4 linked regions of the Homo sapiens genome follow. The protein of the gene in region 1 purifies or fractionates together with the protein of each later gene. This does not show direct contact. Each region holds a gene or a part of one and is shown on either strand. Other genes may lie near its edges.

Region 1 (5,208 bases):
TATTTCATATGTACTTTTCTATATCTTTAAAGGCTTTTTATTAACAGCCAATAAATATACCATTTTGCTTAACTAGTGGATATTTCAGTTTCCATTTTATTGTGATGAGCATCTTTGTGCAAACCTTATTCTTTAGATTGCATTTTACTGTAAATCTAATAAAACTTATCTGCCTTAGTGTGCATTTTTAATTTTATAGCCCTGTATAAGTAAGAATTAAAGATGATACAGAAAAGACTGGACAAAACAAGGTTAAAAAAAAAGGGTGCAAAATGTACCTTTAGTTGGTGACATTGTTACCATGTAGAAGTTATTGGTTAAACTATTTTTATGTTGTTGAATGTAAAAAATGTTAGCTATACAGTGTGAAACACATTTTCTGAATGTTATTTGTTATTATACAGTATTTTCCCTGAGAAGCACCTAGCAAATTCTTTTGATGGTGAAATTCTTTAAGACCTTTGTATCCCTTCTCCAGCCACCTCCCCTCCCACCCCTTGGCCAACAGGAGGGGTGTAAGGATTTGGGCTTCCCCATATTTGCTCTTCCTACAATAGTCTGTTATCGATAGACTGTATTGTCAGTTAAAATCATTTAAGCATTCTATGGCTATAATCTCTATATATTGTTAGACTTTTGAAGCAAATAATTTTTTTTTGGAGACAAGTTCTTGCTCTGTCACCCAGGCTGGAGTGCAGTGGCACAATCTTGGCTTACTGCAGCCTCAACCTTCCAGGCTGAAGTGATCCTCCCACCTCAGCCTCCCAAGCAGCTGGGACCGTAAGTGCATACCACCACACCTGACTAATTTTTTGTATTTTTTGTAGTGATGGCATTTTGCCATATTGCCCAGACTGGTCTTGAACCCCTGGGCTCAAGCAGTCTGCCCACCTCAGCCCCCTAAAGGGCTGAGAAGACAGGCGTGAGCCACTATGCCTGGTTGAATCAAATGAAAAAAAAGTATTTTTTTGATTGAGCTATAATTTACATATCATAATGTGCACCCATTTAAAGTGTACAATTTAGTGATTTTAAGTATATTCATTTAATTGGCAACCACCACCACTTCTAATTTCAGAACATTGTTTACCACCTCTAAAGGAAACCCTGTGCTCATTTAGCAGTCACTTCTTGTTTACTCTGCTCCCAGCCGCTGGTAACCACTAATCTACTTTCTGTCTGTATGGATTTTGGAGCAAATAAATCTAATGTTATTTATTTTATTAGGTGGGTATTTTCTGTAGAAAGAATTTGCAAGTAAAATGGTGGACTTACAGAATCTTTGTTTCAAAGGTTGGTTACGCTAAACTCTGAAGCAACTCTCCAACTATCAGCACTGGAAGTAGTCAAGTTTATCTGGCTAGATTTTTCTTTTATTAGTAAAATGTCAGAAGAACTGGACTTCAGAAGCATTACAATCCTAAATATAGAATGTCTTCTAAAGGTTAAAACATTCTGGAATTTAACTTTTTATTTACATGTTATGTTGATCAGTTTTCTTCTCTCATAGAAGTAAAACTATATTCTGTTTCCTGATGTAAAACCAGTGTTTATGAAATATGAATAAGTATTTAGGAAAAAAGAAGCCCTGGGATAATGAGTATCTGTTCTTTTCTTTTTTTTTTTTGATTCCCCAGACACATAGTGGATCTGTATGGCGTGTGACATGGGCCCATCCTGAATTTGGGCAGGTTTTGGCTTCCTGTTCTTTTGACCGAACAGCTGCTGTATGGGAAGAAATAGTAGGAGAATCAAATGATAAACTGCGAGGACAGAGCCACTGGGTGAGACATTTATTAGTATTCTGGGGACCGGGAAGACATGAGCAGCCAAGGAGCATTCATCCGAAGGCTACCTCAGATAATTGGTAAAATATCACCACTCCCCTCTAGTTTTACCAGTTCTAAAGTTCTTTCTTCCATGTTTTTTTCTTCCTTTTTTATTTCATTTTAACTTGGGTCTGAAGCAATACTTAGGAGCATCACTGCATTGTTTATAACTTTTATGATGAATCCAGAATATTTGCATTGTATTTGATTTTACCTATTAGTATATTTTATGATAGTAATATATGATTTTAAAGTATTCTGGCTCACTGCAGTCTCAAACTCCTGGCCCCACCTCAGCCTCCTGAGTTGCTGAGATTATAGGCATGAGCCACTGTGCCTAACTCTAAAATTCTTTTTTTTTTTTAACTTTAAACTCTTAAGGGTTAATAAAATTCTTTTTTTTTTTTTTAGACGGAGTCTCACTGTGTCACCCAGGCTGGAGTGCAGTGGCACAATCTTGGCTCACTGCAAGCTCCGCCTCCCGGGTTCACGCCATTCTCCTACCTCAGCCTCCTGAGTAGCTGGGACTACAGGCGCCCGCCACCACGCCCATCTAATTTTTTGCATTTTTAGTAGAGACGGGGTTTCACTGTGCTAGCCAGGATGGTCTCGATCTCCTGACCTCGTGATCTGCCTGTCGGCCTCCCAAAGTGCTGGGATTACAGGCGTGAGCCACCACGCCTGGCCAAGGGTTAATAAAATTCTTTAAATTTTATTTAAATTTAAATAAATTTAATGGGCCAAATTCAGGATGGGCCCATGTCACACGCCATACAGATCCACTGTGTGTCTGGGGAATCAAAAAAAAAAAAAGAAAAGAACAGATACTCATTATCCCAGGGCTTCTTTTTTCCTAAATACTTATTCATATTTCATAAACACTGGTTTTACATCAGGAAACAGAATATAGTTTTACTTCTATGAGAGAAGAAAACTGATCAACATAACATGTAAATAAAAAGTTAAATTCCAGAATGTTTTAACCTTTAGAAGACATTCTATATTTAGGATTGTAATGCTTCTGAAGTCCAGTTCTTCTGACATTTTACTAATAAAAGAAAAATCTAGCCAGATAAACTTGACTACTTCCAGTGCTGATAGTTGGAGAGTTGCTTCAGAGTTTAGCGTAACCAACCTTTGAAACAAAGATTCTGTAAGTCCACCATTTTACTTGCAAATTCTTTCTACAGAAAATACCCACCTAATAAAATAAATAACATGGCTAACATGGTGAAACCCTGTCTCTACTAAAAATACAAAAAATTAGCCCGGCATGGTGGTGGGTGCCTGTAAGTCCCAGCTACTCTGGAGGCTGAGGCAGGAGAATGGTGTGAACCCGGGAGGCGGAGCTTGCAGTGAGCCGAGATCACGCCACTGCACTCCAGCCTGGGCGACGGAGCGAGACTTGTCTCAAAAAAAAAAAAAATTCTATAAAAATTGTTTCTTTTGTTTTGTGGTTACTTTTGTTTTCTTAGGAAATATACTGTCCTCGGCCGGGTGCGGTGGCTCACGCCTATAATCCCAGCACTTTAGGAGGCCAAAATGGACAGATCACCTGAGGTCAGGAGTTTGAGACCAGCCTGACCAACATGGAGAAACTCCCCCTCTACTAAAAATACAAAAATTAGCTGAGCATGGTGGCACATGCCTGTAATCCCAGCTACTCAGGAGGCTGAGGCAGGAGAATCGCTTGAACCCGGGAGGCGGAGGTTGTGATGAGCAGAGATCGTGCCATTGCACTCCAGCCTGGGGAACAAGAGCGAGACTTCGTCTCAAAAAAAAAAAAATACACTCTCCTTTATCTACATCTGCTTTTATCGCTGTCTTTGCCTTATTGGATGTTTGAATTTGGGCAAGAACATAATATAATCTGTGTGCTGTTGAAGTTCCTCATCTATAAAGTGAAAACATTGAACTAGATTATATTTAAGACTCTTTCCAGCATTTTCATATGAAGGTATTATCATCTGCATGCTTTTTTTCCCCCTTTATGATTTGTTTTTTGTAATAGATAATCATGCACATGGTGTAAAATTCAAAAGAAACAAAAGGAAGTGTGTAGTGGGAGTGTCCTGCTATTACCCCTCACCTGCCCTCCCTAATGGCATGATACTACGTTAGAGCCAGTCACAGCTCATTGCAGTCTCAACCTCCTGGGCTCAAGTGATCCTCCCACCTTAGCCCCACAAGTAGCTGGGATCACAGGCATGCACCACAGGCTGATTTTTTTATTTTGTAGAGATGGGGTTTCACCATGTTGCCCAGGCTGGTCTTGAACTCCTGGACTGAAGCAATCCTCTCACCTCGGCCTCCCAAAGTGCTGTGATTATAGGCGTGAGCCACTACGAGGGCCATGATGCAATTTTTTATTGTGGTAAAATATGTATAACATAATATTCCTCATTTTAACTTTTTTTTTTTTTTTTTTTTTTTTTTTTTTTTTTTTTGAGACAGAGTCTTGTTCTGTCACCCAGGCTGGAGTGCAGTGGTGGGATCTCGGCTTACTGCATTCTCCGCCTCCGGGGTTCAAGCGATTTTCCTGCCTCAGTCTCCTGAGTAGCTGGGACTACAGGCATGTGCCACCATGCCTGGCTAATTTTTTTGTGTTTTTAGAAGAGACAGGGTTTCACCATGTTGGTCAGGCTGGTCACGAACTCCTGATCTCAAATGATTCTCCTGCCTTGGCCTCCTGAAGTGCTGGGATTACAGGCGTGAGCCACCATGCCTGGCCCATTTTAACTATTTGTAAATGGTATAATTCAGTAGAATTAATTACGTTCACAGTGCTGTGTACCCATCACTGTTATCTGTACTCAAAACTGTTCATCACTGCCAACATAAACTCCATATTTTTAAAGAATGCCTCCCCCTTCCTCCTCCCTCTACCCCCTATTCAACTGTCTGTCTATAAATTTGACTAGGTACTGCATGTAAGTGGAATCACAGTATTTGTCCATTTGCAACTGGCTTATTTCACTAAGTAAAATGTTTTCATGGTCTGTCCATTTTGTAGCATATATTAACTTTATTCCTTTTTATGGCTGAGTAATATTCCATTGTGTGTGTATACCACATTTTGTTTATCCATTCATTTGTAGATGGACCCTTGGGTTGTTTCTACTTCGTGGCTATTGTGAATACTGCTACTATGAGCATTGTTGTACAGATAAATGTTTGAGACCGTGCTTTCGATTCTTTTGGAAATATACCTAGGAGTAGAATTGCTGGCTCATATGGTAGTTCTATGTTTCACGTTTTTAGGAACTGTCAGACTTTTCCATAGCAGCTACACCATTTTACATTCCTACCAGCAATGCTCAAGGGTTCCAGTTTTTCCAAATCTTCATCAGCACTTGTTGTGGTGCTATTTATTGTAGCC
Region 2 (3,584 bases), on another chromosome or scaffold:
TTGAAAGAAGCCAGGAAGAGGAATTACAACAAAGCTGTTGAGAAGACCAACAGTACTTGAGCTGGATATGGAAGAATGGATAGGATTTAGAAAAGCAAGAAGGGGCCGGGCTCGATGGCTCACGCCTGTAATCCCAGCACTTTGGAAAGTCGAGGCAGGCAGATCACGAGGTCAAGAGATCGAGACAATCCTGGCCAATATGGTGAAACCCTGTCTCTACTAAGAATACAAAAATTAGCTGGGTGTGGTGGCGCGCGCCTATACTCCCAGCTACAGTGACAGAGTGAGACTCCGTCTCAAAAAAAAAAAAAAAAAAAAAGTAAAGCAAGAAGGAATGTATTTCTCTCCCTATGTTCTCTGGATTAGGTAAGAAATTCAATTTTATAAATCCAAGGATTTGACTTGCTACAGTTCTTTGTGGAAGAATTTGTACATTAATGGGTAAAAGAACAAAGTGACAAGAACATAGTGACAATTTCTTCTTGCTTGGGAATCTGCTTAGTTAAACTCAACCTCAGAAAATGACAAGCACAGGCATTTACCTACTAGACTGGTGCCAGGAAATTCATCCTCCCGTGAACATACGCTACCACCACTATTATTGGGACATCAAACATTAGAAACATAGTGTGTACTCACTTTGTGCTTCTGGTAAGTCTCCTGATGCTTCTTTAACCCAATCTGCATAGTCATGAATGACAGCAACTCCCAGATTGGGGACAATGAGAGGACACAGTTCATCCACATGGACAGTGCTGTGTTTTAATTTGAGCTCCAGAGGTGTCTGATATAATTTCATGTCTTCATCTGGCTTTCTTTGTCTCAAACTGAGTTTTTCTAAGTGAACTTTGAATGGGGACTCAGTTAGGCTACAAGAGCAAATGAGGAATAGAATAGAAAATGAACCTAAGACAGAAGCTAGGATTTTTACTTCAACCAAACCACTGTTTCTTTTTATGATTACAAACGGAATGCAAACATTTCACTGTAGTTTTAAAGAAATTTTGTTTCTTAAACTATACTGAACTTATCTGCTATATACTGGGGAAAAAAAATCATCTGATCAGTGCATTCAGAACACAAAGGCTTCTTAGGCCAGGTTATAACAAGCATGAGAATCCTAACAGATTTAGAACTGGCTAAAACTCAAGGGCCAAAAGCTATTGTGGGATACCTGTTTCTCAAATTATACTTGGGTATCAAAAGTCATGAGGCTAAGCTTCTAGATACTAAAGAACTGATTCTAAATTACAATGAGCATATAGCTAAGCTAGGCTTGTTCCAATTTTTTTTTTTTTTTTTTTTTTGAGATGGAGTTTCACACTGTCGCTGAGGTTGGAATGCAGTAGCGTGATCTTGGCTTACTGCAACCTCTGCCTCCTGGGTTCAAGGGCGATTCTCCTGCCTCAGTCTCCTGAGTAGCTGGGATTACAAACATGCACCACCACCCTGGGCTAATTTTTGTAATTTTAGTAGAGACAGGGTTTTACCATGTTGGCCAGGCTGGTCTCGAACTCCTGACCTCAAGTGATCCTCCCAAAGTGCTGGGATGACAGGTGTGAGCCACCGTACCCGGCCCCTTGATCTAATTTTTAAGATTGATATTAATAACCTTCAAAATTCACAAGATAATGCTTAACCTAGAATAACTAAGTTTAGGATCAGTATTCTTAATTGTGAGGTTCAAGAGACATTGTTGTTTTTTCTTTTTCTTTTCTCTCTTTTTTTTTTTTGAGACTGAGTCTCATTCAGTTGCCCAGGCTAGAGTGCAATGGCGCGATCTCAGCTCACTGCAAGCTCCGCCTCCCGGGTTCACACCATTCTCCTGCCTCAGCCTCCTGACTAGCTGGGTCTACAGGCGCCTGCCACAACGCCCAGCTAATTTTTTTTGTATTTTTAGTAGAGACAGAGTTTCACCGTGTTAGCCAGGATGGTCTCAATCTCCTGACCTCGTGATCCGCCCATCTTGGCCTCCCAAAGTGCTGGGATTACAGGTTGTTTTTTATTTTTTCAAAGTCAACTTTAAAAATGAAGGATAGGCTGGGCAAGGTGGCTCATGACTGTAATCCCAGCACTTTGGGAGGCCAAGGTAGGACAATCACTTGAGCTCAGGAAACATTAGCTGGGTGTGGTGGCGTGTGCATGTAATCCCAGCTTATCAGGAGGCTGAGGCAGGAGAAGAGCCTCAGACTGAGAGGCAGAGGTTGCAGCAAGCTGAGATCGTGCCACCGCACCCCAGCCTGGGAAACAGAGCAAAACTGAGACTCAAAAACACACACACACACACCGGGGAAACAGAGCAAAACTGAGACACACACACACACACACACACACACACACACACTCTCTCTCTCTCTCTCTCTCTCTCTCTCTCTCTCTCTCTCTCTCTCTCTCTCTCTAGAAAGATGACAAAGCAGGGCCCTATCCTCCTGATTAGTTTTTTTCACCTATCATGTTGCCTTTCTCAAAAAGCATCAAGAAATGTGACTCACGGTTTAACAGCTACTGGATTGGGCAGGAATCCAAACTCCATGGAATCGGCAATCTGATGATTTTCTAGTTCATGAGAGCCATTCAGCTGTTCTCCACTATTAGCAAGAGTCCAGTTGGGGCCCCAACCAACACGAAATGAGCGTCCCATGAATAGGGCCATGTCCATCAAGAGTTTTCCCTTGCCATAGGTGACAGACTTTTCACGAGGGACTAGGCCTAGTTGCCTACGTGTACCCACTGTTTTCAACGGAACCTCAGGGGCTGGGCTGGGCATTGTGAACACAGAAGTCAGGGGTGGAGGGACAGACCAAGAGGATGTGGATGGGATATTCATTAAAGATGCTGCTCTGGGAGTACGACATTCTTGCACAGAGACACTTGGTGAAAGAAAAGCTCCACTTGTAAATTTTGATTGTAGTAACCCACCAACTGAAATGAAGCGGGAATGAAGGGGAGAAAGACTATTACAAAACACAAGCTATTGTTTCTTGAACAATAACAAAAATCAGTAAGGCTGAAATCATTCAATGTTTAATCAAACTACTTATATCAGATGTGGATGACCAGAAGCAGGCTAAGTCAGATTTTGCAGAAATTACTCTTTGAACTAGGAAATCAGGACAAGATTCTAATGATGATGATGATATCTACAACAATAATAAAAGCAACAACACTATTAATATTATTTAAAAATATGCAGCAGGCTCTGTATAAGTCATTTGTATATGTTATTTCATTTCACTCTTCAAAAACTTTTTTTTTTTTTTTTTGGAGACAGAGTCTCGCCCTGTAGCCCAGGCTAGAGTGCAGTGGCATGATCTTGGCTCACTGCAACCTCTGCCTCCTGGGTTCAAGCAATTCTCTGCCTCAGCCTCCCGAGTAGCTGGGATTACAGGTGCCCGCCACCATGCCTGGCTAACTTTTCTGTATTTTTAGTAGAGACAGAGTTTCACCATGTTGGCCAGGCTGGTCTTGAACTCCTGACCTCGTGATCCACCTGCCTCAGCCTCCTAGAGTGCTGCAATTACAGGCATGAGCCACTGCACTTGGCCTCAAAAACTTTTAAATGATTAGCATTATTATCATTCCTA
Region 3 (3,584 bases), on another chromosome or scaffold:
TCTTTGCCAACTCAGCATTTGGGGGCCTGGGACGTTGCCTCTCCACAGGAGGGTAGGTGTGGGTATGTCAGGTCCCTCAGCCATCCCCATCTTTCCCTGATGTGTGCTTTCCTCCCAGTGCCTCAACGCAGTGAGGACAGTGCAGAGTCTGGCCTGCCTGGAGGAGGCGGACCACACCGTGGGTTTTATTCTGCAGCTCTCTAACTTCATGAAGGAGTGGCACTTCCACCTGCCTCAGCTCATGCGTGATATCCAGGTGGGGGCCCAAGATGGTGTCTTGGAGTCTGGGGTAATGCTTGGAGACAGGGAGGCTGTGAGGTCTCACTGGGGCACTCCTAGTGAATTGCAGGATGTTCCTGAACGGGGGCTTTTCCCTTGGGGAGCACAGGGTTTGCTGTCATGTGCTTACTCTGGCTAAATGTTTCCTTCCATAGTCAAGGGCAGCCATGTAGGTTAAGAATTTGGACTTTTATCAGTTAGATCTTGGTTCAGATCCCTTAAGAATACACTTGGGGCCGGGCATGGTGGCTCACGCCTGTAATCCTAGCACTTTGGGAGGCAGTCAGGAGTTCGAGATCAGCCTGGCCAACATGGTGAAACCCTGTCTCTACTAAAAATACAAAAATTAGCTGGGCGTGGTGGCACGTGACTGTAATCCCAGCTACTCGGGAGGCTGAGTTGGGAGAATCGCTTGAACCTGGGAGGCGGAGGTTGCAGTGAGCTAGGATCGAACCATTACACTCCAGCCTGGGTGACAGAGCGAGACTCCGTCCCAAAAAGAAAAAAAAAAAAAAATGGCCGGGTGCAATAGGCTCACGCCTGTAATCCCAGCACTTTGGGAATTCAAGGCGGGAGGATCATGAGGTCAGGAGCTCGAGACCAGGCTGGCCAACATGGTGAAACCCCATCTCTACTAAAAATAACAAAAATTAGCTGGGTGTGGTGGCACACGCCTGTAGTCCCAGCTACTCAGGATCGGGAGGCTGAGGCAGGAGAATCGCTTGAACTCAGGAGGTGGAGGTTGCAGTGAGCCGAGGTCACGCCACTGCACTCCAGCCTGGTGACAAAGTGAGACTCCGTCTCAAAAAAAAAAAAAAAAAACTAAACTAAACAAAACCAAAAAAACACACACAACTGGAGCTGGGAACCAGCTGGAGAAGGGAGGGGTGAGGAAGGAACACAGGCTCCAGAGCCAGGCAGGCTTCTCTTATCTGCTGGTTGTATGACCTTGGCCAAGTCACTTGTTACTTGTAACCTTTTATTCTTTTCCTATAAAATGGAATCAGCCATAATCCTCATCTTATTTTATTTATTTATTTATTTTGAGACAGAGTTTTGCTCTGTCGCCCAGGCTGGAGTGCAGTGGTGCCATCTCGGCTCACTGCAAGCTCCGCCTCCCGGGTTCACGCCATTCTCCTGCCTCAGCCTCCCGAGTAGCTGGGACTACAGGCGCCCGCCACCACGCCCGGCTAATTTTTTGTATTTTTAGTAGAGACAGGGTTTCACCGTGTTAGCCAGGATGGTCTCGATCTGCTGACCTCGTGATGCGCCTGCCTCGACCTCAAAAGTGCTGGGATTACAGGCATGAGCCACCGCACCCGGCCTCATCTTCTTTACTTTAGGACCTTACAATATACCAGGCACCTAGCTGGGTCTCAGGGAGACAGTCCAGTCCTGAGCCCTGCTGGCCCAAGTTTGTAGCCCTGAGTACTTAGTGGCTATAGGGGCTTTAAGCTGGAAAGTGGCCAGGGGAGCATGAGGGAAGGAGGGAGAGAAGGGGAGCATGAGGGAAGGAGGGAGAGAAGGGGAGCATGAGGGAAGGAGGGAGAGAAGAGCAGCAGCGAGTGAGGAGCGCATGGGTGTTACATGGAGGGCTATTGGGTTGGTCTGGTTGGGTGACTGGGCTGCTGACAAGAGAATCCGCTCATCTCTCCTGTGTCTCTCCCAGGTCAACCTGGGTTACTTGTGCCAGGCATGTACCTCTCTCCTGCACAGTCGAAAGATGCTGCAGCATTACTTACAGGTAAGCGTCCTATGCCATGAGGTCCTGGAATACCTCACGCTAGCTTCCCAAGCTCCACCTTCATTTCTTGACTCTCCTTAGAACAAAAATGGGGATGGCCTCCCCTCAGCTGTTGCCCAGCGAGTCCAGAGGCCACCGTCTGCTGCTTCTGCTGCCCCCTCCTCCTCAAAGCAGCCCGCTGCTGACACAGAGGCATCAGAGCAGCAGGCCTTGCACACAGTCCAGTATGGCCTTCTCAAGATCCTCAGCAAGACGCTGGCAGCCCTGCGCCACTTCACCCCAGATGTCTGCCAGATTCTGCTGGATCAGGTACTGCCCATCATCTGTTCAGCACCACCTCCCCTAAAGGCTCTGCTCTGCTGTGTACCGAGAGCTACCTGGGGCCTTAATTGGGTCCTGGATGGCTCTTGTCTTTTCTCGCAGTCCCTGGACCTTGCTGAATACAACTTCCTGTTTGCCCTGAGCTTTACCACTCCCACCTTTGACTCCGAAGTGGCCCCCTCCTTCGGGACCCTTCTGGCCACAGTGAATGTGGCCCTCAACATGCTTGGAGAGGTAAGTTGGTTCTGTCAGACACTGTCCTCTCCCCCCGGCTCCTCCCCCTGCCTGCCACTTCCCAGCTGACCTTGGGCATGTTGGGCATGGTACCTAGCCTCCCAAGCCTGCTCCTCTCTGTAAACTGAACATGACAGCACCTCTGAGAATTACTGTGAGGATTAAATGAGGTAACTGATTAAATTTGCTTAGTGCAGGACATGCAAGTAGGAAGCTCTCAGTAAGTGGGAGCTGTTCCTGTTGTCTTAGTTTTTTACCCTTGCTTCTCTTCAGCTGGACAAGAAAAAGGAGCCCCTCACCCAGGCAGTGGGGCTCAGCACACAGGCAGAAGGGACCAGGACGTTAAAGTAAGTGCTCTTTCTGGGATTTGATAAGGGGCTGGGGCAGTCATGGGCCCACTGTTCTCAAGCTTGGCCAGCCTGGCCCTCTGCAGCAGTACCAAAAACCTGTGTCTCCTCCCAGGTCCCTCCTGATGTTTACCATGGAAAACTGCTTCTACCTGCTCATCTCTCAGGCGATGCGGTACCTTAGGGACCCGGCTGTGCACCCCCGGGACAAACAGCGGATGAAGCAGGAGCTCAGCTCTGAGTTGGTACGGATGGATAGGGATACGGAGGGCTGGACCAATAGGGCCAGAGCCCTGTGGGGTCCTGCCTGGCAACCCCCAAGGGTCAGAACAGTAGCCAGATGTGCTGAGCCTCACCAAGCCACTTTTTTTCTTGTAGAGCACGCTGCTGTCCAGCCTCTCGCGCTACTTCCGCCGGGGAGCCCCCAGCTCCCCTGCCACTGGTGTCCTCCCCTCGCCGCAGGGCAAGTCCACCTCTCTCTCCAAAGCCAGCCCTGAGAGTCAGGAGCCTCTGATCCAGTTGGTGCAGGCGTTTGTCCGGCATATGCAAAGATAGGGCAGTGCTGTTCTGCCCACCTACCCCTCTCCACCAGCCTACACTGCACCCTGGCTGGCAGGGGTGCTGCTGGCTGCTAGGGCCTATACAATGGAGGGCACCTC
Region 4 (3,584 bases), on another chromosome or scaffold:
CCATCTCTACTAAAAATACAAAAAAATTAGCCGGGCATGGTGGCAGGCGCCTGTAGTCCCAGCTACTTGGGAGGCTGAGGCAGAATGGCGTGAACCTGGGAGGCAGAGCTTGCAGTGAGCTGAGATCGCACCACTGCACTTCAGCCTGGGTGACAGAGCAAGACTCTGTCTCAAAATAAAAAAAATAAAAAAATAAAAAAATAAAAAATTAGCTGGGCGTGGTGGCGTGCGCCTGTAATACCAGCTACCCGGGAGGCTGAGGCAGGAGAATTGCTGGAACCTGGGAGGCAGAGGATGCAGTGAGCTGAGATCGTGCCACTGCACTCCAGCCTGGCTGACAGAGCGAGACTCTCAAAAAAAAAAAAAAAAAAAAAAAAAAGTACATTTCAAAAAATAGAAAGAACATTACAGCTTCTGCAGGTCAGTGTAGTCATCAAATATTGCAACACAATGATACCACATTCCTACGTCCTTTCACTCGGCCTCTGATGCTGAAAGAAGATTTGCATCTGGAAAGTGGCTTTTCATCATTAGCTTGCTTCATTCATACACTATTGTTTGTCTTTTGAGTTGAGTAAAAGATACAAGAAACATTTTATTTCTCACCTTGTCTATACTGAGCACAAACATTGGAAAGGTCCACTTGATTGCTAATTTTTTGATATTCCTTTAATGATTCCCTTAACATTCTTTCTTTTTCAGTCTTATTTTGAACTTGTCGGGAACGCTGGAGAAGCTCATTTGCCTAGAAGAGGAGATAACAAGAACTTAAAAATATATAAAATCAAGCAGACAGATGATGCTGTCAACTAAGTTTTAGTCTATGTCTAAATTTATATATGGTTATTACCATTAAAATGAAAACAACTCTACAAACTTACTTCTTAATTTTAGGCAGAAAAGTTTTTGACCAAAGATTCCTAGCTATTCTTAATTCCTCTCCCAAATATGTTAAGCAAGAGAACTTTTGTCTGGTAATTCTCTTGCCTAGTCAATACATTATTGGGCAGCAGGCAGTCCATGTGACACTGATTTATTTATTTTTTCCACCTGTAGGAAAGGATCAATAAAAATGCCCCCATTAACTCTAATTCACTAAAAGATTTACTTGAAGTTTTAGTACTTTTCCTTAAGCTAAGGAGATAAATTATCCCCTAAATTTCCTTAATTTCTAAATTTAGTGATTTTTCTTAATTTCTCACCTTTGGTTTTTTAATATGGCCTAGAAACACTATCAAAGATTCTTTATGGGCCAGGCGCAGAGGCTCATGTCTATAATCCCAACACTTTGCAAGGCTGAGGCAGGCGGAGGTCAGGAGTTCAAAACCAGCCTAGACAACATGGTGAAATCCTGTCTCTACCAAAAATATAAAAAATTAGCCAGGTGTGATGGTGCACACCTGTAATCCCAGCTATTTGGGAGGCCGAGGCAGGAGAATCACTTGAACCTGGGAGGTGGAGGTTGCAGTGAGCTGAGATCGTACTCAGTCTTAAAAAAAAAGAGAGAATATTCTTTATGAAAAACTTAAAGGAGGGCTGGGCATGGTGGCTCACACTTATAATCCCAGCACTATGGGAGGCTGAGGCAGGAGGATCACTTGAAGCCAAGAGTTCAAGACCAGCCTGTGCAACAAATCAGAACTTGTCTCTATAAAAAACAAAAAAATTGGCTGGGTGTAGTGGTGCACACCCGTAGCCCCTAGCTACATGAGAGGCCTGCTTGAGTCTAGGACTTAGAAGCTGCTGTGAGCTATGATCACAGCACTGCACTACAGCCTAAGCAACAGAGTGAAACCCTGTGTCAAATAAATAAATAAAAATATTTTTAAAAAGAAAAGCTAAGCTTAAAAGAGTATACACTGGTTTTAAGAAGCCACATATTCCAACCCCTTTCTTAGATGAGGATTCTGAGGCTAGGAGAGGTTAAGAGATCTAACTGACTGAGGTCCTATATTAAGTGAAACAAGATGGTTCATCATACATGATACCTCTTATAACAAACAATGAAATAGGTAATAAAGTATCATACCTTAGAACAAATTGCATCATCAGTGCTATATAGAAGTGGGCAGATATCCTGTAAATGTAAACTAATGCCATCAACAGCGGCATTATCTCTGATGTAGCAGTTGATAAGAGAAGCAATTAATGCCCCTGTGAGTTCTTTGTCCCTGATTACAAGATCTTTAAAGGTGGTGATCTTCAGCTGCTCTTGAAGTTCCTAGGAGCATAAAACTTTTCTATCACAATTATAGAAATACCATATTTCTAAACATAATGAAATTATTTTAATAAATTAAAATAACCTAAATATTAATAGACTCTATAATTGAAAAGCGAAAATATACTAATTAGTAGAAACAAATTTTTGCGAACTTACATAAAATCATAGAGAGTTGGAAAAGAACCTACAGTAGATCTAGTCCAAAACTCTCACTTTCCAAATGAGAAAAGTAAAGCTTAAGTAGAGCCAAAACTAGAGTCAGATCTCCTGGCTTTGGTTATAAAATGGAAAAAACAATCACTTGGCTATATTTGAAAATCTTGGGCTTACATATTACTCCTTCCTAAACACTGTTAGAATTCCATTATTCTAGGCCTTATAATAATATTGGAGTTTAATCTGTATTGTGAACAAATCTGCTTGTCCAAATGAAGCTCTAAAGTATTGATTTATACTATAGTAAAAGATTCTGTTAGTGATGTGACTGCTATCTCTTTTTTCTAAATTCAAGGAAATACCCAAACTGTGTTAAAATTCTTGAACAAATCTTTAATTTGCATTCATTGAGCATGCCATTGGTGATGTAAGGAAGAGAGCTTTGAAGATGGATCACAAAAACATACCCAGGATAAAAACCTACCTACAATATATTTATCACTCTATAAAACTCAAAATTATTATTCTACTTGGTATGAAAAAGATAAGTTTCATAATTAAATATATTAGCTTGAATTTTTAAAAATAAAAAACAGTATGTATTTAAAAGAAACAAAACCACCAACAAAAGCCACACTATTCATTGGACACTAGTGGAAAGAATGAGGAGACTGCCTTCCAACGTTGAAAAATGGTATACGAGAGTCAAAAAGTAAGTGTTTCAGAGTAATGAAATATCCATACAGGACAAGGAAAAAGAATTTTTTTTTTTTTTTTTACAGAATTGCAGCTAGTAACTGGGGAAGGAATCACAGATTTAAAATATTATCCTTTTGGCCGGGCATGGTGGCTCATGCCTGTAATCCCAGCACTTTGGGAGGCCAAGGCAGGTAGATCACCTGACGTCAGGAGTTCAACACCAGCCTGGCCAACATGGCGAAACCCGGTCTCTTACTAAAACTACAAAAATCAGCCAGGCGTTGTGGCACATGCCTGTAGTCCCAGCTACTCGGGAAGCTGAGGCAGGAGAACTGCTTGTACCCGGGAGGTGGAGGTTACAGTGATCTCAGATTGCTCCACAGCACTCCAGCCTGGGTGACAGAATGAGACACTGTCTCAAAAAAAATAAAAAACAAACAAACAAATAAATAAATATTACCCTTTTGTAATCCTAAATGAAATAATAAATTCCAGCAATGATTAT

Evidence for each region. The genes of interacting proteins can lie anywhere in the genome.
Region 2: the proteins of SEH1L (region 1) and NUP98 fractionate together in Homo sapiens (co-fractionation; 3 studies listed by BioGRID and IntAct, with this or other methods). This does not show direct contact.
Region 3: the proteins of SEH1L (region 1) and NUP188 purify together in Homo sapiens (affinity purification with mass spectrometry; one large-scale study listed by BioGRID and IntAct). This does not show direct contact.
Region 4: the proteins of SEH1L (region 1) and NUP155 purify together in Homo sapiens (affinity purification with mass spectrometry, with the first as the bait; one large-scale study listed by BioGRID). This does not show direct contact.

Annotation. Positions count from the first base shown.
Region 1 is NC_000018.10:12,953,826-12,959,033, forward strand, and holds part of SEH1L (nucleoporin SEH1), read left to right. Parts: intron 1-1,637; coding exon 1,638-1,784; intron 1,785-5,208. UniProt on the Homo sapiens protein: Component of the Nup107-160 subcomplex of the nuclear pore complex (NPC). The Nup107-160 subcomplex is required for the assembly of a functional NPC.
Region 2 is NC_000011.10:3,699,971-3,703,554, forward strand, and holds part of NUP98 (nuclear pore complex protein Nup98-Nup96 isoform 1 precursor), read right to left. Parts: intron 2,923-3,584; coding exon 2,493-2,922; intron 870-2,492; coding exon 640-869; intron 1-639. UniProt on the Homo sapiens protein: Plays a role in the nuclear pore complex (NPC) assembly and/or maintenance. NUP98 and NUP96 are involved in the bidirectional transport across the NPC. May anchor NUP153 and TPR to the NPC.
Region 3 is NC_000009.12:129,003,199-129,006,782, forward strand, and holds part of NUP188 (nucleoporin NUP188), read left to right. Parts: intron 1-118; coding exon 119-256; intron 257-1,948; coding exon 1,949-2,023; exon of another isoform or gene 2,024-2,099; intron 2,100-2,104; coding exon 2,105-2,332; intron 2,333-2,446; coding exon 2,447-2,578; intron 2,579-2,851; coding exon 2,852-2,925; intron 2,926-3,040; coding exon 3,041-3,170; intron 3,171-3,281; exon of another isoform or gene 3,282-3,303; coding exon 3,304-3,480; 3' UTR 3,481-3,584. UniProt on the Homo sapiens protein: Component of the nuclear pore complex (NPC), a complex required for the trafficking across the nuclear envelope. Required for proper protein transport into the nucleus.
Region 4 is NC_000005.10:37,308,523-37,312,106, forward strand, and holds part of NUP155 (nuclear pore complex protein Nup155), read right to left. Parts: intron 2,222-3,584; coding exon 2,030-2,221; intron 1,051-2,029; coding exon of another isoform or gene 1,000-1,050; exon of another isoform or gene 901-999; intron 746-900; coding exon 607-745; intron 1-606.